Homo sapiens: one gene and its partners. The protein of the gene in region 5 purifies or fractionates together with the protein of the main gene of each other region. This does not show direct contact. Each region holds a gene or a part of one and is shown on either strand. Other genes may lie near its edges. The genes, in order: NEK7, FPR2, SLX4, VEGFD and PDCD2L.

Evidence for each region.
Region 1: the proteins of PDCD2L (region 5) and NEK7 purify together in Homo sapiens (affinity purification with mass spectrometry; one large-scale study listed by BioGRID and IntAct). This does not show direct contact.
Region 2: the proteins of PDCD2L (region 5) and FPR2 purify together in Homo sapiens (co-immunoprecipitation; one large-scale study listed by IntAct). This does not show direct contact.
Region 3: the proteins of PDCD2L (region 5) and SLX4 purify together in Homo sapiens (co-immunoprecipitation; one large-scale study listed by IntAct). This does not show direct contact.
Region 4: the proteins of PDCD2L (region 5) and VEGFD purify together in Homo sapiens (co-immunoprecipitation; one large-scale study listed by IntAct). This does not show direct contact.

Annotation. Positions count from the first base shown.
Region 1 is NC_000001.11:198,313,117-198,318,923, forward strand, and holds part of NEK7 (serine/threonine-protein kinase Nek7), read left to right. Parts: intron 1-5,807. UniProt on the Homo sapiens protein: Protein kinase which plays an important role in mitotic cell cycle progression. Required for microtubule nucleation activity of the centrosome, robust mitotic spindle formation and cytokinesis.
Region 2 is NC_000019.10:51,766,206-51,771,938, forward strand, and holds the end of FPR2 (N-formyl peptide receptor 2), read left to right. Parts: intron 1-2,439; 5' UTR 2,440-2,453; coding exon 2,454-3,509; 3' UTR 3,510-4,326; downstream 4,327-5,733. UniProt on the Homo sapiens protein: Low affinity receptor for N-formyl-methionyl peptides, which are powerful neutrophil chemotactic factors. Binding of FMLP to the receptor causes activation of neutrophils.
Region 3 is NC_000016.10:3,594,607-3,600,413, forward strand, and holds part of SLX4 (structure-specific endonuclease subunit SLX4), read right to left. Parts: intron 4,883-5,807; exon of another isoform or gene 3,555-4,882; coding exon of another isoform or gene 3,394-3,554; coding exon 3,191-3,393; intron 3,090-3,190; coding exon 2,773-3,089; intron 1,788-2,772; coding exon 1,547-1,787; intron 1,088-1,546; coding exon 999-1,087; intron 1-998. UniProt on the Homo sapiens protein: Regulatory subunit that interacts with and increases the activity of different structure-specific endonucleases.
Region 4 is NC_000023.11:15,363,114-15,368,920, forward strand, and holds part of VEGFD (vascular endothelial growth factor D preproprotein), read right to left. Parts: intron 207-5,807; coding exon 1-206. UniProt on the Homo sapiens protein: Growth factor active in angiogenesis, lymphangiogenesis and endothelial cell growth, stimulating their proliferation and migration and also has effects on the permeability of blood vessels.
Region 5 is NC_000019.10:34,409,800-34,415,606, reverse strand, and holds part of PDCD2L (programmed cell death protein 2-like), read right to left. Parts: intron 1,871-5,807; coding exon 1,760-1,870; intron 1-1,759. UniProt on the Homo sapiens protein: Over-expression suppresses AP1, CREB, NFAT, and NF-kB transcriptional activation, and delays cell cycle progression at S phase.

The DNA of each region.
Region 1 (5,807 bases), on a different chromosome or scaffold from region 5:
GTGCTCCTGTATTGGGTGCATATATATTTGGAATAGTTAGCTCTTCTTGTTGAGTTGATCCCTTTACCATTATGTAATGGCCTTCTTTGTCTCTTTTGATCTTTGTTGGTTTAAAGTCTGTTTTATCAGAGACTAGGATTGCCACCCCTCCCTTTTTTTGTTTTCGATTTGCTTGGTAGATCTTCCTCCATCCTTTTATTTTGAGCCTATGTGTGTCTCTGCATGTGAGATGGGTTTCCTGAATACAGCACACTGATGGGTCTTGACTCTTTATCCAATTTGCCAGTCTGTGTCTTTTAATTGGAGCATTTAGTCCATTTACATTTAAAGTTAATATTGTTATGTGTGAATTTGATCCTGTCATTATGATGTTAGCTGGTTATTTTGCTCGTTAGTTGATGCAGTTTCTTCCTAGTCTCGATGGTCTTTACATTTTGGGATGATTTTGCAGTGGCTGGTACCGGTTGTTCCTTTCCATGTTTAGTGCTTCCTTCAGGAGCTCTTTTAGGGCAGGCCTGGTGGTGACAAAATCTCTCAGCATTTGCTTGTCTGTAAAGTATTTTATTTCTCCTTCACTTATGAAGCTTAGTTTGGCTGGATATGAAATTCTGGGTTGAAAATTCTTTTCTTTAAGAATGTTGAATATTGGCCCCACTCTCTTCTGGCTTGTAGAGTTTCTGCCTAGAGATCCGCTGTTAGTCTGATGGGCTTCCCTTTGAGGGTAACTCGACCTTTCTCTCTGGCTGCCCCTAACATTTTTTCCTTCATTTCAACTTTGGTGACAATTATGTGTCTTGGAGTTGCTCTTCTCGAGGAGTATCTTTGTGGCATTCTTTGTATTTCCTGAATCTGAATGTTGACCTGCCTTGCTAGATTGGGGAAGTTCTCCCGGATAATATCCTGCAGAGTGTTTTCCAACTTGGTTCCATTCTCCCCGTCACTTTCAGGTACACCAATCAGACGTAGATTTGGTCCTTTCACATAGTCCCATATTTCTTGGAGGCTTTGCTCGTTTCTTTTTATTCTTTTTTCTCTAAACTTCCCTTCTCGCTTCATTTCATTCATTTCATCTTCCATCGCTGATACCCTTTCTTCCAGTTGATTGCATTGGCTCCTGAGGCTTCTGCATTCTTCACGTAGTTCTCGAGCCTTGGTTTTCAGCTCCATCAGCTCCTTTAAGCACTTCTCTGTAATGGTTATTCTAGTTATACATTCTTCTAAATTTTTTTCAAAGTTTTCAACTTCTTTGCCTTTGGTTTGAATGTCCTCCCGTAGCTCGGAGTAATTTGATCGTCTGAAGTCTTCTTCTCTCAGCTTGTCAAAGTCATTGTCAGTCCAGCTTTGTTCCGTTGCTGGTGAGGAACTGCATTCCTTTGGAGGAGGAGAGGCGCTCTGCTTTTTAGAGTTTCCAGTTTTTCTGCTCTGTTTTTTCCCCATCTTTGTGGTTTTATCTACTTTTGGTCTTTGATGATGGTGATGTACAGGTGGGTTTTTGGTGTGGATGTCGTTTCTGTTTGTTAGTTTTCCTTCTAACAGACAGGACCCTCAGCTGCAAGTCTGTTTGAGTACCCGGCCGTGTGAGGTGTCAGTATGCCCCTGCAGGGGGGTGCCTCCCAGTTAGGCTGCTCAGGGGTCAGGGGTCAGAGACCCACTTGAGGAGGCAGTCTGCCCGTTCTCAGATCTCCAGCTGCCTGCTGGGAGAACCACTGCTCTCTTCAAAGCTGTCAGACAGGGACATTTAAGTCTTCAGAGGTTACTGCTGTCCTTTTGTTTGTCTGTGCCCTGCCCCCAGAGGTGGAGCCTACAGAGGCAGGCAGGTCTCCTTGAGCTGTGGTGAGCTCCACCCAGTTGGTGCTTCCCGGCTGCTTTGTTTACCTAAGCACGCCTGGGCAATGGCGGGCGCCCCTCCCCCAGCCTCGCCGCCACCTTGCAGTTTGATCTCAAGACTGCTGTGCTAGCAATCAGGGAGACTCCATGGGCGTAGGACCCTCCGAGCCAGATGCGGGATATAGTCTCCTGGTGCGCCGTTTTTTTAAGCCCGTCGGAAAAGCGCAGTATTCAGGTGGGAGTGACCTGATTTTCCAGGTGCCGTCTGTCACCCCTTTCTTTGACTAGGTAAGGGAACTCTCTGACCCCTTGCGCTTCCCGAGTGAGGCAATGCCTCGCCCTGCTTCGGCTCGCGCATGGTGCGCGCACCCACTGACCTGCGCCCACTGTCTGGCACTCCCTAGTGAGATGAACCCGGTACCTCAGATGGAAATGCAGAAATCACCCGTCTTCTGCGTCGCTTACGCTGGGAGCTGTAGACTGGAGCTGTTCCTATTCGGCCATCTTGGCTCCTCCTCCCCATCTATGGTGGGCCTTAGCTTTTCTAAGAGGTATGAGGAGCCATTGAAATGCTTAAAGTTGAAGCATCACCTGGCTAGTTAGGCAGTGCTAGAGAAATAGGAAGACAACTGAAAGCAAAGCCGTCAGCTGGAAGACTATCCAAGAGTGTGGCAGTGGAGATGGTGTGGCAGGAGCAAACAAAAGGTTTAAGGAGCCTGAGACCAATAGGACTGGTTGCTGACGGTTAGGCAGGTGGGAAGGAAGTATGATGAGATGTTTGATATGAATTTCAAATTTTTGACTTAAGAAGTTGGAGGTGCTGTTAGGAAGAGCTGGTTGGGGAGAAAAAAATACTAATATTTCAGTTTTAAACATGTTTAATGTGAATATTTACGTGCAGCTCTACTCAGAAGGCAGTTGGAAGTATGGGAACAGAGCCTGCAAAGAGGTCTAGGCTGGAGACAGATAACCTGTGTTCCTCAGCATGTTGGTGGTTATTGAAGGCATGGGAGTAAGTGCAGTTGTTGAAGATAAGAAGGAAGAGTGAAACAGGAAAAGAGTTAAGGAAAGGAAAATATTTAGGGCATACCAACATTTGGTAGATTTTTCAAAGGAAGATAAACCTCCAAAAGAAACTAGGAAGAAAACGTCAGGGAAGAGAAGGTCTAGGCCGGAATTGAATGATGTAAATCCAAAAGGATAGAGCTGACCAGGATGAAAGGGATTGGAAATGGTCTCAGTCAAATCAAACACAACCATACTGGAGGAAGGGAGGGAGAGACACAGAAGGACAGTTGTGTGTGCTTACATTTCTGATGTGACACAGCATTTTAAGAAACAGGCTGTGTCCTTGGAAGACAGAGACTAAATTGGTATGAAGGTGAAGATTACAGTCAGGTAATCAAAGAGATTTATATTGATTCACATCAAATAAATGTGAAAGTGACCCAAGATGAGGGTTGCAGTACTTGGAATGGAGAAGGATACTGTCAGCTGTGTGGGTATCGATACCTCCGTGTACGAGGTGCAACAACTCATAGTTAAACAGATTTTAGAAAAAGAGGAAAGTAATTATTTCCTCCTCTGGGCAGCCACACTTAATCTTTTACCTTTATCTCACAGATATCTCTTGAGATACCTATCACTTTGTAGTTTATAATAGAATTATTTCTGTGATTTCCTCACTTTCACATTTGTTTCTTTGTTCTGTCTATCTTCCGCTAGATTGTAGGCTGTTTAAGGGCCTGTGCTGTGTATTTTTCATTATTGCTTTATCCTTACTACCTAACAAAGTGTCTGGTACATAATAAATACTCCATTGGAAACTATTGAATGAACAATTGAATGAACGGATGAAAATGGAAGAGGGGGCAAAAAGAAAGAACAAAAGAGTCAGATGGTTAGAAAGGAAAATGAGTCATTCTCTCACTTCTCATGCTGGACAACAAGCCTTCCCTTGTGGACAGGTCCTTTGTCTTATCCGGTGCCATCAAGTATCACCAGCATAGTGTCTCTTGCAGAGTAGATCATCTAGAAATGTTGCTGGAGTGGATAAGTGGGAGCATTCCCAAAGCATATTTTAATTTCGTAGGTTTTCTTTCTTTTTATACTTTATTAATTTTTTAATGTAACAAATAATTGAGGAAAAGTTATCAACAGATTGATTCATAAATATAGTAAAGTATGCATATTCTGTATTTCACATATCTGATTTTATATGGTGATAGCCCTTTTGATTCTTCTGGAAAAGGAAACTCTTTATGACAAGATACACTTCGTATTTGGTGGAGATTGAATCAATAAGTGGGGAAGGAAAAGCAAACTCCAAGGTGCTGTGGCTCTGCCTGTCGCAAGGTCACCAATTGACCTGTCATCCCTTTGAAAGGCCATCCTTAAAGGAGCAGTTTAGAAGCATCTGCTCACTGGCACTCCCACTACCTATTTACCTTATTCAGTGTCTTTCTCCCTTTTTGTTATTCCCAATTCTTGTCTTTTTACTTTGGTGAACTAGAGAATCACTGTCTGCTTCAACTAAACGTGCATCATTATATCTCTAATCTTGGTTTTTCCTCATGCCAGGAGAACTTAAGGGCCAGTCATTCATTCTTAGTGGTTGGAAATTCTACCCTATTCTGAATTATTACACAGGAAAAGTTAAGGTTTCTGAACCAGCTTGAAGGATGTGGCAGTGTTAGGAAGTCAAAAAATTGTTTACTGCATGCATCTACTTGTATTTTAGCTAAATATAATGAACTTTTTGTACCATGGTTATCTTTTCCTGCTATTCTTTCTGCTTGCTTTCTTGTTTTTATCTCTAAAGAAAATATCTGACAGCTAGATGACCCATTAGAACACATTATCTTTTAAATTATGTGTCATTATGTAAGTGCTTTTCCCACTTTCTTCTGCATTGTGTATTACTGGATATATTTATTTTTTTTTTTTTTTTTTTTTTTGGTAACCTGGTAAAATGCCAGTCTCTTTCTGATGTAAATTTCTCTTAGATCACCATAATAAAATGCTTTGTGTATTGCTGTACCCCTTAAGGGTTTTAAATGCTGTTCTCTGCTCTTTTGGAAGGAATATAAATTAAAATCTTCAGGCTCTCCCAGTGGGTGTAACATTACTATGAAACATTGTTGAATTTCCAAGTGTAGCTAAAATTGATTCATTAAATTTCATTCTGCTAGAATCGTAAAATGTAAGAGATTAGGATGAGAACAGCCCTTATAGGTCATCCACTCCAACTTCCCTATTTAATAGATGAAGAAATGAACCTCCAGAGACAGTGACTTACCCAAGGGCACAGAGCTACAAAGTGCCTTCAACAAGACTGGTTTCCATTTCACTGTACTCCTTACCAAACTCTGACCCTTCATCTGGCAGACTCTTTGACCCACCTCCTCTTTCAGAATGACATTTCTCAGTGCCATTAGCCTTCTCCATAGCACTAGCAACATCTTCAGCCCAAGCTTTTTAATCATCACTTGTATTTTCTCTGGTTGAAAGTTATTTTATGGTAGAAATTGAGAACTATGAAGAAATTGTGCTAATTTAAAAATTTACTAAGTGCTATATCGTGGCCAGAGTTAATGCAAATTCTCAAAATGTCTAAACTGTTCCTAAAGAGACCTACAAAGCAAAAGAATATAGTTTTTCCTCTTAGTTTATTGTCTATGAAGATCATATACAATGTTATGATGACACATAGTTTCATAAACTGATGGAAATTAGAATTGACAATAAAATGCTATGTTCTTCTACCCGATGGATCGAGGACCATATAGGAGGGTAGTTTCTTAATTTATTGAAATCTGCTTTTATTCTATGATATAAATAGAATAAAATAGTAAACCTCAACTCTCTCATCTATAAAGTGAGGACATTTAAATACTGTGTACACAATTGAGGATTGGAATAACACTTATAACTTCCCATATAATTTATTATAATTAGTTTAAAGGAGTGTTTTTTTCTCT
Region 2 (5,733 bases), about 17 Mb from region 5:
CCACCGTATCTGGCTGAGCCCAGTATTCTTTGTAACAGTGACTCTCAATTGGGGGTGACTTTGCCTCCGAGGGGACCTTTGACAATGTTTATGGAACCTGTTGATTGTCATTTCTGGAGAAGGAGTTGCTACTGGTGTCTGTGGATAGAGGCCAGGGGGGCTGCTCAACATCCTACTGTGTCCAGAACAGTCTGCCACAACGAAGAATTACCCAGACCCAGATGTCAAAGGTGCCAAGGTTGAGAAACCCTGAGCTACATTAAATAACGTCCCATGGAATACCTCAGTGAAACTCACTGGTAATAGCAGGAAGAAAAGGAGGAAATAAGGAAAAGGAAGAAGGCTAAAAATCACCAGACTGAGGCATAGCCCTATCCTAGTAATCTTGGGGGAATCCCTTTCAAAGGCAGGACTTCCGTATGCAAAGGCAGTGGCTCTGGAGTTGTTCATCTCGGTTTCCGTATCTTGCTGCCTCCACTGACTGGCTGGGCATGATGTTGAAAAAAACTACAGAAGTCCCCGGGCCATGAATTCCCCCAGATGTGATGGCTGTTTCCCAATGTTATTATGAGCATTAGATGTGAACAAGTGCTATGGAATTGCTATTTCTCTTAAAGATGCTGAATAGCCCAGTCTGAGATGATTCTCAAATTCTCATGGCCATAGCAAATCATCCTGGCTTTTACACATACAGATTCTAGAATGAGATTTATGGATATAATTGTTTTTCATTTTTATTATAAGTTCAGGGGTATATGTGCAGGTTTGTTATACAGGTAAACTTGTATCCTGGTGTTTTCTTGTACAGATTATTTCATCACTGAGATATTAAGCCTAATACCCACTACTTATTTTTCCTGATCCTGTCCCTCCCCTCACCCTCCACCTTCCGGTAGGCCCCAGTGTTCCCCTCTTTGTGTCCATGTGTTCTCATCATTTACCTCCCATTTGTAAATGAGAACATGTGGTATTTGGTTTTCTGTTCCTGCATTAGTTTGCTAAGGATAATGAATACAATTTTAACAGGCAGCCTGGATGTTTCTGATAAAGTCCACAGACCACGGCATAAGAAAATGTGCTCAGGTGACGTGGGACTTTGTGTTGAACTGGATACAAATATTACAGATGTGATCCGGACCAGAGGCAGGGACTACATGTTTTGGGTTTTTGTTCTTAAAAGAAAAAAACAAAAACAAAAAAACTTGATCTGAGAAGCTCTGAAGGGTCATATTCTTACAATGTTATTGTCCACAATTTAGTCACGTGTCCACTACCAAAGCAATCCCTTGCAAAGTAAAAGGGATTCTGGTTAGTGCTAATTAGACTAGTCAGGATTTACTCCCAACATGGAGAAAAGACACCTTCTCTGCAGGGTGAGTAACTAAACACAATTGTGGTTTTTCAAGCAGAGAAGAATGGGGAACCGTTGCTGGGTGGGCAACCAGCAATATCTGTCAAGCGTAAGGGTTTAGAAGTCAGACCATGCCAAACTGAAGTCCTGAATCTATTATCTACTACCTAAGTGACCTTCAACACATTTCACAATTGCCCTGAGCTTTCATTTATTCTAATGAAAACTAGAAGTAATGAATATTACATAGCTATTACATAGGCCAAACCGGATCCCATATGTAGTAATTAACACAATGCATAGTCTCTAATAAGAACTTCACAAGTATTAATACAACTTATTATTCTTATAGTCTTTATCCCACAGACACCAAAGCTATACAAATCGGCACTGATTATTTGCATTCCAAACAGAGAAGAGCTCCACATCAAGCAGGGACAGGGAAAAGCAGAGGGTAGAAAGCAGAGATGGAACTCTCTTTGCTGACTTCCTCTAGTGCAGAATCCTCAGGATATAACATACTACTACATGTTACCAGTGACTCCTCAAAATTCTCTTCAACAATAACCTCAAGCCAAACCCTCAAACTTTATCTTGAGTACTAGCCAAGCAATAGGTCAAGGGTTCTCACAGTTTGAGGGACAGGAGTTGGGAGACTGGAAGAACCTGGGGCTGAAAGAGATTGCAGAGCTTGCCAGCATGTTTGCATTGAATGGTGGGAGACACAGATGTGAGCCTTCTGATTCTGAGTCATGTGCCTTCCTCACAATGCTGAGGCTGCCTATGCTCAATTTTCCATTGTCCATACAACATAAGTTCAGTATGAGCCTTGTAATCCTCTTGGTGAAGTGATCAGCCCGATAAGCGAAATGCATATTGATAATGATGGGAATATGGAGGACTATCCCTTCCCAAAGGAGCATCCAAGAGAATGCCAATTCTATAGCACCGTTGTCAACAAGGCTTGGTAGATAGAGTGGGTCTCCTGGTAGGAGTGGGAGCTTTAGTGGAAGTTGATGTGAGCTATAAATACAGATGCTGTAAGATGGTTCCACAGCTGAGAAATGGCCATTGTTGGAATGTTTCAGGTGCTGCTGGCAAGATGGAAACCAACTTCTCCACTCCTCTGAATGAATATGAAGAAGTGTCCTATGAGTCTGCTGGCTACACTGTTCTGCGGATCCTCCCATTGGTGGTGCTTGGGGTCACCTTTGTCCTCGGGGTCCTGGGCAATGGGCTTGTGATCTGGGTGGCTGGATTCCGGATGACACGCACAGTCACCACCATCTGTTACCTGAACCTGGCCCTGGCTGACTTTTCTTTCACGGCCACATTACCATTCCTCATTGTCTCCATGGCCATGGGAGAAAAATGGCCTTTTGGCTGGTTCCTGTGTAAGTTAATTCACATCGTGGTGGACATCAACCTCTTTGGAAGTGTCTTCTTGATTGGTTTCATTGCACTGGACCGCTGCATTTGTGTCCTGCATCCAGTCTGGGCCCAGAACCACCGCACTGTGAGTCTGGCCATGAAGGTGATCGTCGGACCTTGGATTCTTGCTCTAGTCCTTACCTTGCCAGTTTTCCTCTTTTTGACTACAGTAACTATTCCAAATGGGGACACATACTGTACTTTCAACTTTGCATCCTGGGGTGGCACCCCTGAGGAGAGGCTGAAGGTGGCCATTACCATGCTGACAGCCAGAGGGATTATCCGGTTTGTCATTGGCTTTAGCTTGCCGATGTCCATTGTTGCCATCTGCTATGGGCTCATTGCAGCCAAGATCCACAAAAAGGGCATGATTAAATCCAGCCGTCCCTTACGGGTCCTCACTGCTGTGGTGGCTTCTTTCTTCATCTGTTGGTTTCCCTTTCAACTGGTTGCCCTTCTGGGCACCGTCTGGCTCAAAGAGATGTTGTTCTATGGCAAGTACAAAATCATTGACATCCTGGTTAACCCAACGAGCTCCCTGGCCTTCTTCAACAGCTGCCTCAACCCCATGCTTTACGTCTTTGTGGGCCAAGACTTCCGAGAGAGACTGATCCACTCCCTGCCCACCAGTCTGGAGAGGGCCCTGTCTGAGGACTCAGCCCCAACTAATGACACGGCTGCCAATTCTGCTTCACCTCCTGCAGAGACTGAGTTACAGGCAATGTGAGGATGGGGTCAGGGATATTTTGAGTTCTGTTCATCCTACCCTAATGCCAGTTCCAGCTTCATCTACCCTTGAGTCATATTGAGGCATTCAAGGATGCACAGCTCAAGTATTTATTCAGGAAAAATGCTTTTGTGTCCCTGATTTGGGGCTAAGAAATAGACAGTCAGGCTACTAAAATATTAGTGTTATTTTTTGTTTTTTGACTTCTGCCTATACCCTGGGGTAAGTGGAGTTGGGAAATACAAGAAGAGAAAGACCAGTGGGGATTTGTAAGACTTAGATGAGATAGCGCATAATAAGGGGAAGACTTTAAAGTATAAAGTAAAATGTTTGCTGTAGGTTTTTTATAGCTATTAAAAAAAATCAGATTATGGAAGTTTTCTTCTATTTTTAGTTTGCTAAGAGTTTTCTGTTTCTTTTTCTTACATCATGAGTGGACTTTGCATTTTATCAAATGCATTTTCTACATGTATTAAGATGGTCATATTATTCTTCTTCTTTTATGTAAATCATTATAAATAATGTTCATTAAGTTCTGAATGTTAAACTACTCTTGAATTCCTGGAATAAACCACACTTAGTCCTGATGTACTTTAAATATTTATATCTCACAGGAGTTGGTTAGAATTTCTGTGTTTATGTTTATATACTGTTATTTCACTTTTTCTACTATCCTTGCTAAGTTTTCATAGAAAATAAGGAACAAAGAGAAACTTGTAATGGTCTCTGAAAAGGAATTGAGAAGTAATTCCTCTGATTCTGTTTTCTGGTGTTATATCTTTATTAAATATTCAGAAAAATTCACCAGTGAAGCCAACTTGGTCTTGTGTTTTCTTTCTGGGAAGATTTTTAATAACAAGTTTGTTTTCTTTAACAGTGATTAGACTCTTCTGTTTTTTGGTTTTTTGTTTTTTCCTATCTGTCAGTTTTGGTAAACTGAATTTCAAGGAGTTTGGCCATTTCATTCAAACTGTCAAACTCATCGGCATAAAATAGTATAATAACTGTTTAAAAGTTATAAAACAGCATGAAACTTGGCTGGGTGCGGTGGCTCATGCCTGTAATCCAAGCACTTTGGGAGGCCAAGAAGGGTGGATCACCTGAGGTCAGGAGTTTGAGACCAGCCTGGCCAACATGGTAAAACCCCATCTCTACTTAAAATACAAAAATTAGCTGGGCATGGTGGTGCACACCTGTAATCCCAGCTACTTAGGAGGCTGAGGCAGGAGAATTGCTTGAACCCGGGAGGTGGAGGTTGCAGTGAGCCAAGACTGTGCCATTGCACTCCAGCCTAGGGGACAAGAGTGAGACTTTGTCTGAAAAAAAAAAAGTATGAAACTTGAAATGCTTTCTTTTATGTATTTATTAATTTCTGATTTTTGTTCTTCTTGTTGTTATTATCCTAGAGCACAGCCTTTGGAGATACAGTTTCTTTTAAACAACGAAAATGTAAGCTCTCTGAAGTCAGGGATTTTGGTCTGTATGGTTTGCTGATTGAACCCCATCCTCTATGTGTAAAATACTGTCTGATATGTAATAGACATTCATTAAATACTCATTGAATAAATGAATCAATAAACAATAGTATCACCTAGGTGTCAAGTGAGAAGTTTTAATGTCAAATCAAAATTATCTCCAACCCTTATTACATGAACCAGACCATGTCCAGTAAACACCCATCCTCAAGCACACAATATTTAGAAATACTCATGTGGCTTACTTTTTCATCAATTTCTGGTTTTGAGCTTCTGCTTTAAGGAAAGTACCATGGCTAACTGTTGCCTCACGCCTTTGTTTTGAAATAAATCAACCCACAAAGGTACTCAGCCCTTTACTTTGCTTACAGGAAATGACCACTCAGAAATGGTCCTTCGGTGCGGAACATACTTTCCGGATGCACTGGCAAAAGACAGAACTCTACACGAATATGAGGCAGTCCTGTTATCAGCGTCCTCACTCACTCCACCGCTTCTCCCTTTCCCTCCTGTTTCCCCTAAAGTTATTTACATTTCCAACATTTCCAAAACAGAGAAGTTTACTTAGTTCATTTGCATTCTTGACTCCTATAAATGCTTTCCAGTTCCTAAGAAAAGTATACCCTTTAATGCCCGACTAAGTTGTGGCCATAGAAAATAAGGAACAAAGAGAAAACGCAAGAAGGAGAAACCTGGAGCCAAGAACAGCATATGACCTTGAAACAGGAGAACCACGGCTTCTAGACTGG
Region 3 (5,807 bases), on a different chromosome or scaffold from region 5:
AGGAGGAGAGGAAGAGCCGTCACCTCCCCACCTCTGCTCTGCTAACTGGGCAGTGGGAAGCTCCCCGCATGGAGGTGGCGCTAGGGTGGGCCGGGAGCCAGGACCTGCATTCTCCTTTCCTCTCCAAAACGCTTCCCACGATGGCCTCAACCTCTGAGTGACCCTAAGGCCCTGAGTAGCACAGAAGAGCAAAGCACTAGCTTGTTCCTCTGGCTCTTGCCAGTGGGTTCCCTGGCCCCCGTGGAGATGCCAGACATGGGGCTAGATGTGAACTCACAGTGCTGGCAGCTCCCGCACTGAGTGGGACAGGCTGCGGGATACCTGGGCTTTGAGGAGGTGCACCCATCCCCTGTGACGGACAAGCACCCTGAGTCCAAGCAGCTCGGGGACCTGGCCAAGAGGACAGCCGGGTCCAGTCTGTGATGATGTCCCTAGGCTGGCCTTGGCATGAAGTGCTTGGTTGACACTGACATGCAAATGGGAGGAGGTCCACTCTAGGGAAAAGCCAGTTCCCACCCCGGTTCTTCCCCAGACAGCGCACTGACAGGGAGGCCAGGCCAGGCTGCTCAGCTGTGCTCTGGAGCCCAGGACCCGCACAGAGGGGAGGGAGAGCAAGCCCTTGGTGAGCTCCCAACTACTGAGGAACGAGCAGAGCGTGCCTGGATGGGGCAACCGCGCTGAGAAACTGTGGTCCCTCTACACTCCTGGGACCCAGGACAGGGCAGGCTCTGGGGCCTCAACCCCAAGGTGCCCCATGGAGTCACAGACAGAAAAGGCAGAAGTCTCGTGGCAGAGCCCCCAGAGGGGCGCTGAGGTGGCTGTGGGTCCGTGGCTCTGCTCACGGATGTCAGGATGTGGCAGCCTTCTGGAAAGCAGAGGCCTTGAGAGGCCACTGCACTTGCGTTGGGGGCCAGAGGCCAGCGGTGAGCCAACCCCACCACACACATGGCAAGTGGGATGGCCGGGACCAGAGAGCGCGGGCCAGAGCCAGTTCTTACCAAGGTGCGGCCGCCCCTGTCCGGGTGCTTGTCCTGCGATGGCACCACAAACCCAGTCAGAGGAAGGCCGCCGGGCACCACGTCCAACCCTGAGTGGAGGATTCACAGGTTAAAGGAACGTCACAGCCCAGCCACATCCACCACCAAGAAGACAGCGTTGACCACAGGCTGAGCCAGCCCCTGCGGTGCCTCGGAAGGTGCTTGCTATCCGAGGACACCTTCATGCAAAGCAAACCCGCACACCCTGTCTCACCACCACTCCACCAGGGAGGTAAGAGAAGAGCAAAACAGACAGTTCACCCAGAGGATTCACTCGCTGTGGGCAGACAGCTCTGTCTTTGGTTAAAGTGGAAGGAAAATCATGACAGAGTTGTCTACACCACATTGACCTTTGAGAAAAAATGAAAGCGCCCAGAGGCTGCGTGTTCTCCCACCAGGTCAGAGCTGCCGTCGCGGCGGCACAAGAGCCAGTCCATGGCAGCCTCAGCCGCGGGGAGGGGAGGCCCGGGAGGGCAGGGCTGGCCCTAGAGTCCCACCCAGCATCTCACCTGCAGTCCCTTCCGAGCCAGCCAGGCCCCCACTGCCGGGCCACGGGCTGGCGCTCAGTCCCTCCCTCGCCAGGTCCACGAGGTCCTGCAGGGCCTGGTGCTCCCTCTGGCTGGCCGAAGGCGACGGGCCCCTGGAGCCACAGCCTGCAGTGGGGGTGCCGTGGAGAGCGGGTGACCTTCGCTCGCTCAGCTCTGAGTGCTCAGGTGGCACCAGAGGCGGCACGGGCTCCTGCATAAGGCCCTGAAAGAAGCCAGTAAGGAGAGTGACCACGTGGTCACTGTCATTGACGCACACACTGCAGAAGCCATCACATGTGGTATGCACGGCTGGACCTAAAACTACAGAGCAGGATGTGGGCTGTGGGGACAGACTGTCCCCGGGGCTCCAGCCACAGCCTGGAGCAGTCCTGGGATGCTTTTCCCCAGCACTCATGTCAACATGCTCCTCCTCTGTCACGGCCAAGGCCAGGCCTGTGGCATCTGTTTGCACAAAGGCTTGTCAGAGGCCAGGGGGGCCCAGGCCTGCCGCCCTCCTGAAGTCCTCCAAGCTGCCTCAGGCAGCTGCGTACTGACTGTAGGGCTACCTGCCGCACGACTGTCTGGAGTGTGTGCTCCGAATGCCAGTTTCCGGGCTCCATCTGAGGCATTTTGCCAGTTGCCCTGGGACTCTGTTTTTTTTTTTTTTTTCAAGACAGAGTCTCACTTTGTTGCCCAGGCTGGAGTGTAATGGCACGGTCTCGGCTCACTGCAACTTCCGCCTCCCCGGTTCAAGCGATTCTTCTGCCTCAGTCTCCCAAGTAACTGGGATTACAGGTGTGTGCCACCATGCCTGGCTAATTTTTGTATTCTTAGTAGAGATGGGGTTTCACCATATTAGCCAGGCTGGTCTCGAACTCCTGACCTCGTGATCCGCCCACCTCAGCCTCCCAAAGTGCAGGGATTACGGGCGTGAGCCACTGCGCCCGGCCGGGACTCTGCATTTTCAACAAACTCCAGGAACACACTCTGGTGGACACCAAGGGTCCTCCCTGATCCTACCCAGAGTACCATGTAGTTGCTGGACAGAGAAGAAAGCTGCAGCCACCAAGTGCCCCTCTGGCCTCCTCCCGCCTCTGCCTTTCCTTCCTGGACTTTCCATCACCTGGCTGTGGGTACCCAGTGTTGCAGTTCTGGGATTGCCAACCTCCCCCAAAAGCCTATCCATGTGCCTGAGGGGAGGGACTCACCTGGGCAGGCCGCTGGGGCACGAGAGGAGGGACCAGCCTGGCCGTGTAGAAGTCCTCCATGGCCCAGGCCCCAGTCAGTGCGCTGCCCTCCCACAGAAAGCTCTGCTTGCGTTCAGGTGGAGGAGGACACTGGCCCGCTCTTTCCCACCCTTCCTTTAAAATCCTGCTGGCAGGAAGTGGTGGCGTGCTAGACAATTCCACTTCCTCAGAGAGGAGCAGGGCCACACGGTCCTCTATCTGTCGGCCTGTGGTTTCAGAGTCCTGGACTAACAACAATGGGGGGGATACCGGGGGTTTCTTCTTGCGACTTTTATTCTCTAGAGAGAAACAAAAGCGACACCATCAACGGTGGAGTCGGTCCACTCACCCGGGACCTGCTGATGGCCTCTCCCAGGGTCACTCTTCTGATCACACAAACCTGCTTCTGGTCTTATCCTCTCAGAAAAGGCACTTTCCAGCCTGAGCGCTGGTACAGCCGCACCCGGCTCCATCTCCGACCGGGACAGAGCCATGGCCACCAGCAGGTCCTCGGACGGTGCCTCGTCCACCTTCCGCCTCTTCCGTGGCTCCTTCTTGCTGGTGGGTCCTCTCCGTTTCAGACCTCTACTGTGATCACTGAAGCTAGAAAACAGCCAAAGAGAAAAGTTACTGGGGCTAGAGGAGTGCACGCTTCTCAGGTTGGTCACACTGGTCTGGAGAGGGCTGGGCCTGAGAGAAAAGTGACGGATGTGGACCTGCCAGGCAGATGCGTCCCCCACTTCCACTGCCTTGTGTGAACTCATTCAATTCCAGGCCAGAAGTTCAACATGGCCCAGGCACAGGAGGGTCTGGGTTCCTTCACGTGCTGCTGTCCAGCAGGCTCATGGCAGATGTACGGAGCCATCTGTGGTACCTGCACATCCTCATGTGGCCAAGCCCATCCAATGGAGTCAACAATCGATGGCTCTGAGCAGGCTCCCTGGACTCCCACCACCTTCACCCATCAATACTTCCGATGCTCCTTACACGGTCCTGGCCACACCGGCAGAAAAGGATCCCTTCCCTCCTGCAAGGGCTCCACGGCAGTGCCTCTGTCCATGGCCAGAAGGAAGGGCTTCCCAGCTTAGGCTGCCGATGGTCAACATTATACCAGCCGCCCCGGGACTCTGCACTTTCAACGGGCAGCAGCTCGTTTGGTTTGGAGGAAATGAACAGGAGTTTCCGGCTGGAGAGAACCTAGGCTGCCTGGGTGACTCCCAATAAGCTGGGCAAGAAGGAGGAGGGCAGAGGTGACAAAGGAACTTAGCACAAACCGGGCCCACCTTCCCTGCAATGCAGTCATGCCTCTGGCTTTTGCAAAAGCTCATGCTCTCCAGGGTGCCAGGGATGGCTCAAGTTCACCTTCCCAGGAACGTGGATAATCACAGCCTCCCAGAGGGAAAGGAGCTGCCTGGGCAGCCTGGGACCCTGCTTCTGTGAAGGGAACACAGACTGTGTTCCCTCCTCACTCCCCAGCAGGCCAGGTTTGGGCTGTGGGGAAAGAATATGAGGCACTCTGGCCGGGGCATGCGTTCTGATGACCACAGGCTTGGCCTTTGGGGAGGGAGGGGTTCAAAGACCCCATGAGGGCATCCAGCTCCTGTAGTTTTCTACTCTGACAACCTTCTAAACGGATCCACATACATCTAGTTTCAGTACTTGGAGGTATTCTAAAGGCAGACATACTTTATCTGAGCAGGTGCTTTTGGCGTGGTCCTGCCAAGAAAGAAACAATGGCTTAGATGACGTCTATTCTAAGGCCTCAAGGCTTGCACCCCTGCCATGCTAAATACAGATGCGCTCCTCCACCAAGAGAATCCCCTCTGCCCTCTGCCATCTCAGCCCCGAGCCAGCTCAGCTGCCCATGACCTGTGTGCAAAGCAGGGGGCGGGACAAACAGCTATCGCCTTTGGCCTTCCCTTTGCTCCTGACAGCGGTCTCAAACCTGGAGGAGTCAAAGGTCCAAGATGCCTTTGTTCACTATGAACCTGGTGTCAGCTCTAGCGTCCTCAGCAGCAGGGCAGCGTGGAGCAGGGCCAGCCCTCTGGCACTTGTGTGGCTGTGGTTTGCATGCTGAGGACTTGTTTCCTGGCTGTGAGCAAGGCAACTCATTTTAACTTTTAAGCATTAATTCATGCAAGATTTTTAAAAAATAGGGTCCTACACTTCTGTTGCACCAACTTTGTTGTTGTTTTTGTTTGTTTTATGAAGACAGGTTCTTGCCCTGTCGCCCAGGCTGGAGTGCAGTGGTGCAATCACAGCTCATTGCAACCTTGGCCTCCCAGGCTCAAGTGATCCTTCCGCCTCAGCCTCCCACGTAGCTGGGACTACAGGTGTGCAGCACCACAGCCAGCTAATTTTTTAATTTTTTGTAGTGATGGGTCTTGCTATGTAGTCCAGGCTGGCCTTGAACTCCTGGGCTCAAGTGATCCTTCCGCCCTGGCCTCCCAAAGTATTGAGATTACAGGTGTAAGCTACCGTGCCTGGCCAATCACCAAATCTGTGAACTGTGCTGAGTAATCTTATGTTAACAGTGTGAAAACTGGACTGTGCTGAGGTGGAAACCATGCTGTCCAACAACGAAATGGATGGAGTAAAGTGACTACCAAATTCTTAGATGTGGTAAAGCAGTAGTCCCCAACCTTTTTGGTACCAGGAACTGGTTTCATGGAAGACAATTTTTCCATGGGACAGGAGTAGGGGAATGGTTTCAGCATCAAAGCATTCCACCTCAGATCATCAGGCTTTAGATTTTCATAAGGAGAGCTCAACCTAGATTCCATGCATGTGCGGCTCACAACAGGGTTTGTGTTCCTGTGAGTCTAATGCCACCACTGATCTGACAGGAGGCGGAGCTCAGGCAGTAAAGCTTGCCTGCCCGCTGCTCACCTCCTGCTGTGTGGCCAGGTTCCTAACAGGCCACAGACCGGTACTGGTCCGAGGCTGGGGGGTTGGGGACCCCTGCACTAGAGGGTACCGACTGTGGGATCATGGGATTGGAAACTCAGGAAGGACCT
Region 4 (5,807 bases), on a different chromosome or scaffold from region 5:
AGTGTTTCAATGTCATAGAAAGTTGCCGCAAACCTAGTGGACCGATGGGATGCTGAGCGAGAGTCCATACTGGTAAAACTTTTGAGCCTCAGCCTGCATCTCCACAGCTTCCAGTCCTCAGAGTGAGTAATTCGAAGTAGTTCCTCCAAACTAGAAGCAGCCCTGATCTGCTGTTCAGATCGTTCCAATGTGGACTGAGATGATCGCTTAAAAAAACAAAAATACCAGTTTAAAAACAAGTTACTAAATTTTAAATTTGTCATAATAATCTTCATTTCTGACACTTAGAAGTGTAAATACATCTGTAATTAGAGATACTATTGAAACGTATGCCAGTGCCTAGGAAAAAGGATATCTTCTAGTATTTTTGGTTTACATTCTGCTCATTTTTGATTGAATCAGAGGATTTACTTATTCTTCCTGGGTTCTCAGAACACTTACAAAGAAAATTGTAGTGCATTGAATGGTGGGCCTCAAAATGATATGTCCACATCCTAACCCACAGAACCTGTGAACATTACCTTAATTTGGACAAAGGATCTGTACAGATGTAATGAAGTTAAGGATCTTAAAATGAGATCCTCCTGGATTATCTATGTGGACCCTAAATACTGTACAATGACAAGTGTCCTTATAAGAGACAGAAGAGAAGACAGGGACACAGAGGAAGGTCATTTGAAGATGGGGGCAGAGACCGGAGTGATGCAGTGACAAGCGGGGGATTGCCTAGAGCCATCAGAAGCTGGATGAAGCAAGAAAAGATTCTCTCCAAGAGTGTTTTGAGGGCGTGCAGCCTTGCTGACCCTTCCATTTTGGAATTCTGGACTCTGGAGCTGTGAGAAAATACATTTCTGTTATTTTAAGCCACCAAGTTTGTGATAATTAGTTATGGCAGCCATAGGAAACGAAAAGATGTTTATCATATTATTTTTGTGACAGTAGCTACTGACAGTTGTTTTCATCTCTGTTATTTGTTTGAGAAATTGATCCACAAAGGCCTGGGTAACCTGACTACAGTCACAAAAAAAAGATATCAAGCCCCTGATAACCTGAATTTTCTTACTTCTAACTCTCTTTGTTTTCTTTTAAAACCTACTATTTCAAAAACATGATTTTTTTCTGACAAAATACTTTTCTGGGGTTTTACGCTCTAGAAGTATAAGAGTTTAATATTCTTATGGAGCTATCAAATACTCTTCTAGAGTTTGCTTTCCATACAGTTGCATGAACTGTATTGGCGGATACAGTGCAACTGTATTGGATGGGTTTGTAAGAAAAAAAAGACTTGGTAGATAAAAGATTTTCAGTATGTAGCCTCTTGTTCAAAATTGGGGGCTTAGTTATATAAATAATGATATATGCATACAATGAATTCTATGTGATCATCAAAACAAAGGATGTAGAGGTATATTGGGACAGAACGAATTGAGATCCTTCCTGGAATGTGCTGGAGAAATGATAAGGTGATCTATCTATGGCTAGGGCCTCCGATTTTCTCTTGCTGACCCGGTAGTTACTAGATGTTTGTTTTGCTGGGTGGTTGGAATATGCAGGCTGAGGCCATTTGTAGAGCTGGGATGAGGGAGGAGGCAAAGGACCAGTGCTGAGAGAGGAGGGTGGAAGGGAAAGGTGAATGTCAGCTGCCTGCTGCAGGGCGAGGAACAGTGAAGGAAAACAAAGATGAGCAAAAGGGGCTGTTAAAAGGCTTTGCATTGGGTAGTGTGATGTACACTCTCCTCCACTGAGCCTCAAAAGCTGTAGTTAAAATCTACATCATGCATTAGCATTTTAGGAGGAGAAATTTTTTTTAGACATGCTAGTGGACACTGAGAGTTGTCCAAAAATGGGTACTCAGAAGAGCAAGTGTGGTCTAAGTCATGTGTGATTCAGCTATGATATAACCTCTTTTAAAATTACTTATGTATTTTTACTTATGCACTTATGTACATCATATATACATACTTATATGGATATATGAGGAACATCTGGAGACATATACATGAAAATGTAAACAAAGGTTATTCTTTATTTATTTTCGAGACCGAGTCTGGCTCTGTCATCCAGGCTGGAGTGCAGTGGCACCATCTCCGCTCACTGCAACCTCAGCCTCCCAGGTTCAAGCGATTCTCCTGCCTCAGCCTCCTAAGTAGCTGGGACTACAGGAGCCTGCCACCATGCCCGGCTAATTTTTGTACTTTTAGTAGAGATGGGGTTTCGCCATGTTGCGCAGGCTGGTCTTGAACTCCTGGGCTCAAGTGATCTGCTCGCCTTGGCCGCCCAAAGTGTTGTGATTACAGACATGAGCCGCTGCGCCTGGCCAACAATGGTTATTCTTTAGATCAAGAGCTGTCAAACTATGACCTCCCAGCCTAATTTAGCCTGCTGCCTGCCTGTTTTTGTAAATCAAGTTGTATTGACACACAGCCATGTCCATTCATTTACTTATTGTCTACGGCTGCTTTCATACTACAAAAGCAGAGTTGAGAATTTGAGACAGAGACCTTCATGGCAGTTTCAATCTGAGGCCACTTGTCTTTTTTATTCTCAATTCTTTAATATTCTCAGCCATTATCATTTTCATTATTCCACCTATAATATTGCCTCTACTCTCTTTTTTGAAAAATGTTGGAGGCTTTTAATCATCTTACATGTCTCTTAAATGTGCTTTTATATTTAGCTATTTTTTCCTCTTCACCTCTCTCTAATGTGTTATGGGTAAATTAATTGGTTCATCTTTCCAATCACCAACTCTCCAATTGTTGTGAGTCTAGAGTTTACTTTGTTAAGGTTTTAATTTCAATCACCGTATTTCTAATTTCAAGCATTTCTACTTCATTCTTCTTCCTATCTACTTTCTGTTACATTTCTGTATATTCTTCCTAGTTTGTTTGTTTGTTTGTTTGTTTGTTTTGAGACCCAGTCTCATTCTGTTGCCCAGGCTAGAGTGCAGTGGCGCGATCTCGGCTCACTGCAAGCTCCACCTCCCGGGTTCACGCCATTCTCCCTCCTCAGCCTCCTGAGTAGCTGGGACTACAGGCGCCCACCACCACGCCCGGCTAATTTTGTTTTTGTATTTTTATTAGAGACAGGGTTTCACCGTGTTAGCCAGGATGGTCTCGATCTCCTGACTTTGTGATCCACCCACCTCGGCCTCCCACAGTGCTGGGATTACAGGCGTGAGCCACTGCGCCCTGCCCCTAGTTTGTCATTTCAATTTTATGAATATTATTTCTTTATCTCTTTGAGGGTTGCAAATATTTTTAAGTATTTCTTCAAATTATTTTAGATTTTAACTTTATAGGTATGACATATACTGATTATTCATTTTGTTGCTGTCATTCTTAGTAATAATTATATTAACGTGATTTGGAATTTTGGTTAGTAGTTCCATTTTCATTCAGAGATTCATTTTTCTTTCTCATTATTCTTTCTCCAACATTTAGAAGTTTTATGGTTGTACCCCATAATACCCTGGGTCCTGAATCCGAATCTTGTTGAGTATTTATGATTCAGGGATCAGCTCAGCTCACGTCCTAGTTGCAAGGAAGTATCTGCTTCCTCCTTTGCCCCGTTAAGTAATTTCATAGAAGTCACAGCTCCAGGCAGCAATGAGCAGTAACTCTTCCTTCCTCTTTCATGGATCTGATGTAGTGCACTAAAAGAGCCGATTTCCAACTGAAGCTAAATTTTTGATGGCCCCTGTCTTCTAGCCCAGATCCATAAGTCCTGCAGCTTCAGCTTCATGGCTTTAGTGCCATTTCTGTAAATGATTGTCATCTGCAGATGTTTGCCATCATTCAATCAATTTTATATTCTGTGGACTAAGAACGATCTGAAAATATGAATCTACAAGGTTATCGCACTTGGGAATCCAGATGTGAGTGTGTGTCTGTGGGTGCATGTTTTTAATAAAAGCGGGAGAATTATAAGCTGGGGGAAAGAGGCAACAGACAGGAAGAAAGAAAAAGCATATGCAGGAGAGCTAAGGCAGGACCTAGAGGGGTTGTTTTGACATAAGTGCCAGAGATAAGTGGATGTAGTGTGACTAGATGAGAGGATCACTGTCAGAAACAAGAGGAAAATACAGAATGACATGGGTTTGTAGATGGCAAGACTGCCTGGGAAGCTCAGTGAGCTCATACCTGTGATTTCTCACTTTTCGATAAAGTTTGAATCAAGGCAAAATTGTGGGAGTGAGAGGAGTGGGGAGCATGAGGATCATAGATCGGGTTTGTGAAATTGGCTTGCCACAGCTTCTTCATCTAAGAAATCTGGAGATGAAACTGAACAATTGCTAATGTCTCTGGCAGCTTTGAAATTCAATGCTTCTCCATTAAGTCTTATTTGTCAATAGTCTCTCTTTTCCTGATTATTCATTCTCTTCTAGTTGGACAGTACTCCATATACAATTCAGTCTTCAAAATAAAACTTTGTGACAATGCTGCTTCCACGTGAAAATAATGAAACCAAGCAGCTTTTTAAAGATTTTAGAGTTGAAGCATATTGAAAGGATTTTTATGTATTGAGGCAAATTTCACTCAATATTATCCAAAAATACAAGGCCAGGCATGGTGGCTTACACTTGTAATCCCAGCACTTTGGGAAGCCGAGGTGGGAGGATTGCCTGAGCCCAAGAGTTCAAGATCAGACTGGAAACATGGTGAGACCCTGTCTCTACTAAAAATACAAAAATTAGCCAGACATGCTGGTGCATGCCTGTACTCCCAGCTACTCAGGAGACTGAGGTGGGAGAATCACCTGAGCCTGGGGAGGTCAAGGTTGCAGTGAGCCATGATCTCGCCACTTGCACTCCAGCCTGGGCAATGGAGCACGATCTTGAAAAAGAAAGAAAGAAAGAAAGAAAGAAAAAGAAAAAGAAAGAAAGAAAGAAAGAAAGAAAGAAAGAAAGAAAGAAAGGAAAGAAGAAAGAAAGAAAGAAGAAAGAAAGGAAAGAAAGAAAGAAAGAAAGAAAAGAAAGAAAGAAAGAAAAGAAGGAAAGAAAGAAAGGAGAGAAAGAGAAAGAAAGAAAGGAGAGAAAGAGAAAGAAAGAAAGAAAAGAAAGGAGAGAAAGAGAAAGAAAGAAAACAGGCAGATGTATGGTTTTATTATAGTTCTTACAGGATTCAATTCAATCTTAGAAATATTTTTAAACTATCCAACTGTGAGAACTCAGGAGAAAATATCAAATCTCTGGATTGAATTAAAGTAATTAAATGGCTCATACAACTTGCCTCATCATAAAAAATGCAGTGTTTACTCAAGTACTCAGAGTTATTTAAGCTTACTTTCAACCCCAGAATTTAAAACCTAGTTTGAAATAACAGAAATTGCAGACAGTCATTTTGCTATTTTAAGTGGAAGTACTAACAATTAAACTTAAGTAGAAACCTGACAAGTAATTCATCAAGGGCATACATTTTCAAAGGGTTCAAGAATGGTTGTTTGTTCCCAATCGGCTTTCTGCACTGGTTGATTTTTGTATAATGAACTTTATGTTATCCACTTGGGTAAGACAAAAATAACAATTAAAAATGTGTTTATCCCAAATACATACTTAAACCATTGATTTCAGTGGTTTTAATTACTAAACCTTTGCCAAGTAAATTGCTCCTAATTTCTTCCTATTTTCTGATGGAAGTGCTAATCAAAATCAAAATAATTAAAAGGTTTTCATCAAGAGGAAGAAAGTGAATGAAGCAGGGTTACCAGATCTCTGCTTTTTATTACAGCGGCAGCTTTTTTATGGTAATTAATTCAAGACTACTAGCAATTTCACTCTTAAATAACAAATCATTCTCTAATTTCTT
Region 5 (5,807 bases):
GGGAAAAAGACCATTTGAGCTAATTCTGCCCACTTTGTCTGGACCTGTTTTTACTATGTGGCTATTTTTATAAATTATACCTGCTGGGTATGTCATTTCCTCTGAGGCCTTTCTGATAGCCTACCTAAAATAGCTCTATTTTTTCCTCATTTATCACTTATGGGAATCATACAGGTTTGTTTTTAATCTCCCCCACTAGTCACAGTGGCTCAAGCCTGTAACTCCAGCACTTTGGGAGGCTGAAGCGGGCAGATCATTTGAAGTCAGGAGTTCGATACCAGCCTGACCAACATGGTAAAACTCCGTCTCCACTAAAAATACAAAAAGTAGTCAGGCGTGGTGGCGCTGTAATCCTAGATACTCGGGAGGCTGAGGCAGGAGACTCTTAAACTTGGGAGGCGGAGATTGCAGTGAGCCAGGATCACGTCACTGCACTCCAGCCTGGGTGGCAGGGCGAGACTCCATCCCAGAAAAATAAAAATAAATTAAAAAATAAAAATAAATATATGGGCCAAGGGTCGTGGCTGATGCCGGTAATCCCATCACTTTGGAAGGCCGTGGCAGGAGGATCACTTGAGGCCAGGAGTTTGAGAGCAGACTGGGCAACATGATCAGATCCCATCTCTACAAAATACATTTTTTAAAAATTAGCCAAACATGGTGGCACACTCCTGTAGTTCTAGCTACTTGGGAGGATCGATTGAGCCCAAGAGGTAGTTGTTACAGTGAGCAATGATCACGCCACTGCACTCCAGGGTGGACAACAGACTGAGACCCTCTCTCTAAAAAAATATTTTTTTAATAATAATAATAGTCCAGGCACAGTGGCTCATGCCTGTAATCCTAGAACAAACTCTGGGAAGCCAAGGCAGGTGGATGGCTTGAACCCAGAAGTTTGGAACCAGCCTGGCCAACATGGTGAAATACCATTTCTAAAAAAATATACAAAAATTAGTTGGGCATGGTGGTACATGCCTGTAGTCCCAGCTACTTGGGAGGCTGAAGTGGGAGGATCACTTGAGCCCAGGAGGTCAAGGTGCACTGAGCTATGATTGATCACACCACTGCACTCCAGCCTGAGCAACAGAGCAAGACCCTGCCCCCAAAAAAAAAAAAAAAAAAAAAAAAAAAAGCCAGGCATGGTGGCTCACACTTGTATCTCAGAACTTTGGGAGGCTGAGGTGGGCAGATTACGTGAGGCCAGCAGTTCGAGACCAGTCTGGCCAACATGGTGAAACCCCATCTCTACTAAAATACAAAAAAATCAGCTGGGCAGGGTGGCGGGCACCTGTAATCCCAGCTACTTGGGAGGCTGAGGCAGGAGAATGGCTTAAACCCAAGAGGTGGAGGTTGCATTGAGCCAAGATCACGCCACTACACTCCAGCCTGGGCGACAGAGCGCGACTCCCTCTCAAAGAAAAAAAAAAATTAAATAATAATAATAATAAAGGCTATGAGAACATGGACTTCATCTGTGCCGTTTCTTGCTATATCTGCAGCACCTACAAATACCAGCAACTGGCATGCAGAATAGACTTCGTAAGTATTTGTTAGACAAGTGAGTGCACTTTACCTTACTGAATCCTCCTACACATCCTATAAAGTAGGTATTAGGTCCTATAAAGCAGGTATTAGGTTCTCTCTTGGTTTGGGGAATACTGTAGGTTTTGCTTTTCTCATATTTTCCTGTGTTTTCCAAACTAATATGTATTCCTTTATAATCAAGGAAAACAATAAAAGGAACTGTGCCTTTTTTTACCTCAAAATCTGCTCCTGACAAGCAGCAATTCGCTTCATGAATTTGTAAAACGTCTGATCTCCACTTTTAATTATGGTCTTCTCATATTTTTCATCACCATCATTAGGAAGGCTAAAAACAGAAGCAGAAAACACTTTTGAATGTCTATATCCAGAAAATTACAGCATTTGCAAGACAAAACAAGATAATTTTCTTTTAAAAAATTTTATCAGGGCAGGCGCAGTGGCTCACGCCTGTAATCTCAGCACTTTGGGAGGCCGAGGCAGGCAGATCACAAGGTCAGGAGATCGAGACCATCCTGGCCAACATGGTGAAACCCCATCTCTACTAAAAAATGCAAAAAATTGGCTGGGCATGGTGGCTTGCGCCTATAGTCCCAGCTACTCAGCAGGCTGAGGCAGAGGAAATCGCTTGAACCCGGGAAGCGGAAGTTGCAGTGAGCCGAGATCGTGCCATGCCACTACACTCCAGCCTGGTGACAGAATGAGACTCCATCTCAAAAAAAAAAAAAAAAAAAAAATCAATCACGCCTTTAATCCCAGCACTTTGGGAGGCCGAGGTGAGCAGATCACCTGAGGTCAGGAGCTTGAAACCAGCCTGGCCAACATCTTGAAACCCCATCTCTAATAAAAGTACAAAAAATTAGCCAGGCGTGGTGGCGGGCGCCTGTAATCCCAGCTCCTTGGGAGGCTGAGGCAGGAGAATCACTTGAACCCAGGAGATGGAGGTTGCAGTGAGCCAAGATTGCGCTATTGCACTCCAGCCTGGGCAAGAAGAGTGAAACTCCGTCTCAAAAAAAAATTTCTCAGGCCAGTGCAGTGGGCTCACGCCTGTAATCCCAGCACTTTGGGAGGCCGAGGCAGGCGGATCACTTGAGCTCAGGAGTTCAAAACCATCCTGGGCAATCTGGCAGAACCTTGTCTCTACAAAAAAATACAAAAATTAGCTGGGCATGGTGGCATGCACCTGTGGTCCCGGCTATTCCAGAGGCAAGGCTGTGGTGAGCCGTGAGCACACCATTGCACTACAGCCTGGATAACAGTGTGAGACCCTGTCTCAAAAAGAAAAAAAAAAAAAAACTGTCAAAGTTAAAAAACTGTAAAACTGTCAAGTAATTTTTTTTTTTTTTTGAGAGGGAGTCTCCCTCTGTCACCCAGGCTGGAGTGCAATGGTGCAATCTTGGCTCACTGCAACCTCCACCTCCTGGGTTCAAGCAATTCTCCTGCCTCAGCCTCCTGAGTAGCTGGGATTGCAAGTGTGCGCCAACACGTCCAGCTAATTTTTGTATTTTTAGTAAAGACAAGGTTTCACCACGTCGGCCAGGCTGGTCTCCAACTCCTGACCTCAAGTGATCCATCTCGGCCTCCCAAAGTGCTGGAATTATAGGAGTGAGCCACCGCACTCAGCCAAAAACTGTCAAGTAAATATTTTTGATATTTAAATTGTGTACATGTAGCTCTGCAGTTCCCTGCCCAACCCTTCTCCCAAGCCATTTTCAACTCTTGAGTAATTATTTACAATTTAAAAAGTCGCAGGGCACAGTGGCTCACACCTGTAATCTCAACACTTTGGAAGGCCGAGGCAGGTGGATCACGAGGTCAAAAGATCGAGACCATCCTGGCCAACATGGTGAAACCCTGTCTCTACTAAAAATACAAAAATTAGCTGGGCATGGTGGTATGCACTTGTAATCCTAGCTATTCAGGAGGCTAAGGGAGGAGAATTGCTTAAACCTGGGAGGTGGAGGTTGCAATGAGCTGAGATTGAGCCACTGTACTCCAGCCTGGCAACAGAGCGAGATTCTGTCTCAAATATATATATTTTCATATATATTTTTTAATATATATATTTTATTATTTATTTTATATATATATATATATATATGTATTTTTCATCTGGGTGCGGTGGCTCACGCCTGCAATCCCAGCACTTTGGGAGGCCAAGGAGAGTGGGTCACTTGAGGTTAGGAGTTTGAGACCAGCCTGGCCAACATGGTGAAGCCCCATCTCTACTAAAAATACAAAAATTAACCGGGTGTGGTGGCGGGTACCTGTAATCCCAGCTACTTGGGAGGCTGAGGCAGGAGGATCATTTGAAACTGGGAGCTGGAGGTTGCAGTGAGCCATTATCACACCGCTGTACTCCAGCCTGGGTGACAAAGTGAGACTCTGTCTCAAAAAAACCAAAAATTTTTTTAATTAGCTGAGTTTGGTGGCACACACCTGTAGTCCCAGCTATGGGGAAAGCTGAGGCCAGAGGATCCCCTGAGGCCAGGAGTTTGAGGCTGCAGTAAACCATGAGCAGGCTGGGCGTGGTGGCTAATACCTGTAATCCCGGCACTTTGGGAGGTCGAGGTGGGCGGATCACGTGGGGCCAGAACTCCAAGAAGAGCCCGGCCAGTATGGCAAAAGCCCATCTCTACTAAAAAGAAAATACAAAAATTAGCTGGGTGAAGTGGCGCACGCCTATGGTCCCAGCTACTCGGGAGGCTGAGACATGAGAGCTGCTTAAGCCGGCGAGGGAGAGGTTGCAGTGAGCCGAGAACGTGCCACTGCACTCCAACCTGGGCAACAGAGCAAGACTGTCTCAAAAAAAAAAAAAAAAGGCCATAACCACACCACACCACTGCAGTTCAGCCTGGGAAACAAAGCAAGATCCCATCTCTAAAAAAAAAAAAAAAAAAAAGAAGAATACTCTAGTCTGAAGAAACCCACCAAAAATAAGCAAATACATAAAAACTTAAGAAATTAAAAAATAAAAAATCCTGCCGGGCGCGGTGGCTCACACCTGTAATCCCGGCACTTTGGGAGGCCAAGGCAGGTGGATCACGAGGTCAAGAGATTGAGACTATCCTGGTCAACATGGTGAAACCCCGTCTCTACTAATAATACAAAAATTAGCTGGGTGTGGTGGCGCGCACCTGTAGTCCCAGCTACTTGGGAGGCTGAGGCAAGAAAATTGCTTGAACCCAGGAAGGGGAGGTTGCAGTGAGCCGAGATCGCACCACTGCACTCCAGCCTGGCAAGAGAGCCCATATCACACACACACAAAAATAAATAAATAAATAAATAAATAAATAAATAAAAAATAAAAAGTCCTTATAACCATCAATTCTATTAAGGATTATTTTCAAACACCAACATGTCTTCATGCATTCCCCTTCATCATTATTCTGAAAAAGCCTACAAATGAAACAGTTCTGGTAAAGAACCAGGCCATTTCTCCAAATATTCTATTGTAATTTTTTTATTCTAATAGTAAAAAATGCTGGGTGCAGTGGCTAAAACAAATTTTTAGGCCAGGCACAATGGCTCACGCCTGTAATCCCAGCACTTTGGGAGGCTGAGGTGGGTGGATCACCTGAGGTCAGGAGTTCGAGACCAGCCTGACCAACATAGTGAAACCCCATCTCTACTAAAAATACAAAAATTAGCTGGGCATGGTGGCACATGGCTATAATCCCAGCTACTTGGGAGGCTGAGGTAGGAGAACTGCTTAAACCTGAGAGGTGGAGGTTGCAGTGAGCCGAGATCGTGCCATTGCACTCCAGCCTGGGTAACAACAGCGAAACTCAAAAAATTTTAATTGGTCAGACATGGTGGTGTGCACCTGTACTCCCAGCTACTTGGGAAACTAAGATAGATTGCCTGAGCCCAGGAGTTCAAGGCTGCATGAGCTTTGATCACACCAATTCACTCCAGCGTGGGTGACAGAGTGAGACCCTGTCTCTCTCAGTCAATCAATAAGCAAAAATGATCATTCTTACCTCTTTAGAGAGCTTTGGTTTATAAAGCCTTTCAAGATCTACCCTCTCGCTTAACTCTCAAAAAATCATGGGATGAAACAGAGAACAGAGATATCACCATCACTCTCATTTTACAGAATTGAGGATCTGAAAGCATCTCTGAGGTCCTGGGCCAGTTCTGGAGCCACAGCCAAGAGTCAATAAACAAATGGCGTTTTTCTTTTCCTTTTTCCATTTTTTCACCCCAATCTTATTATCCCAGATCAAATGGTAGTTTTCTAACTTGCCTGTCTCTGCTATAAA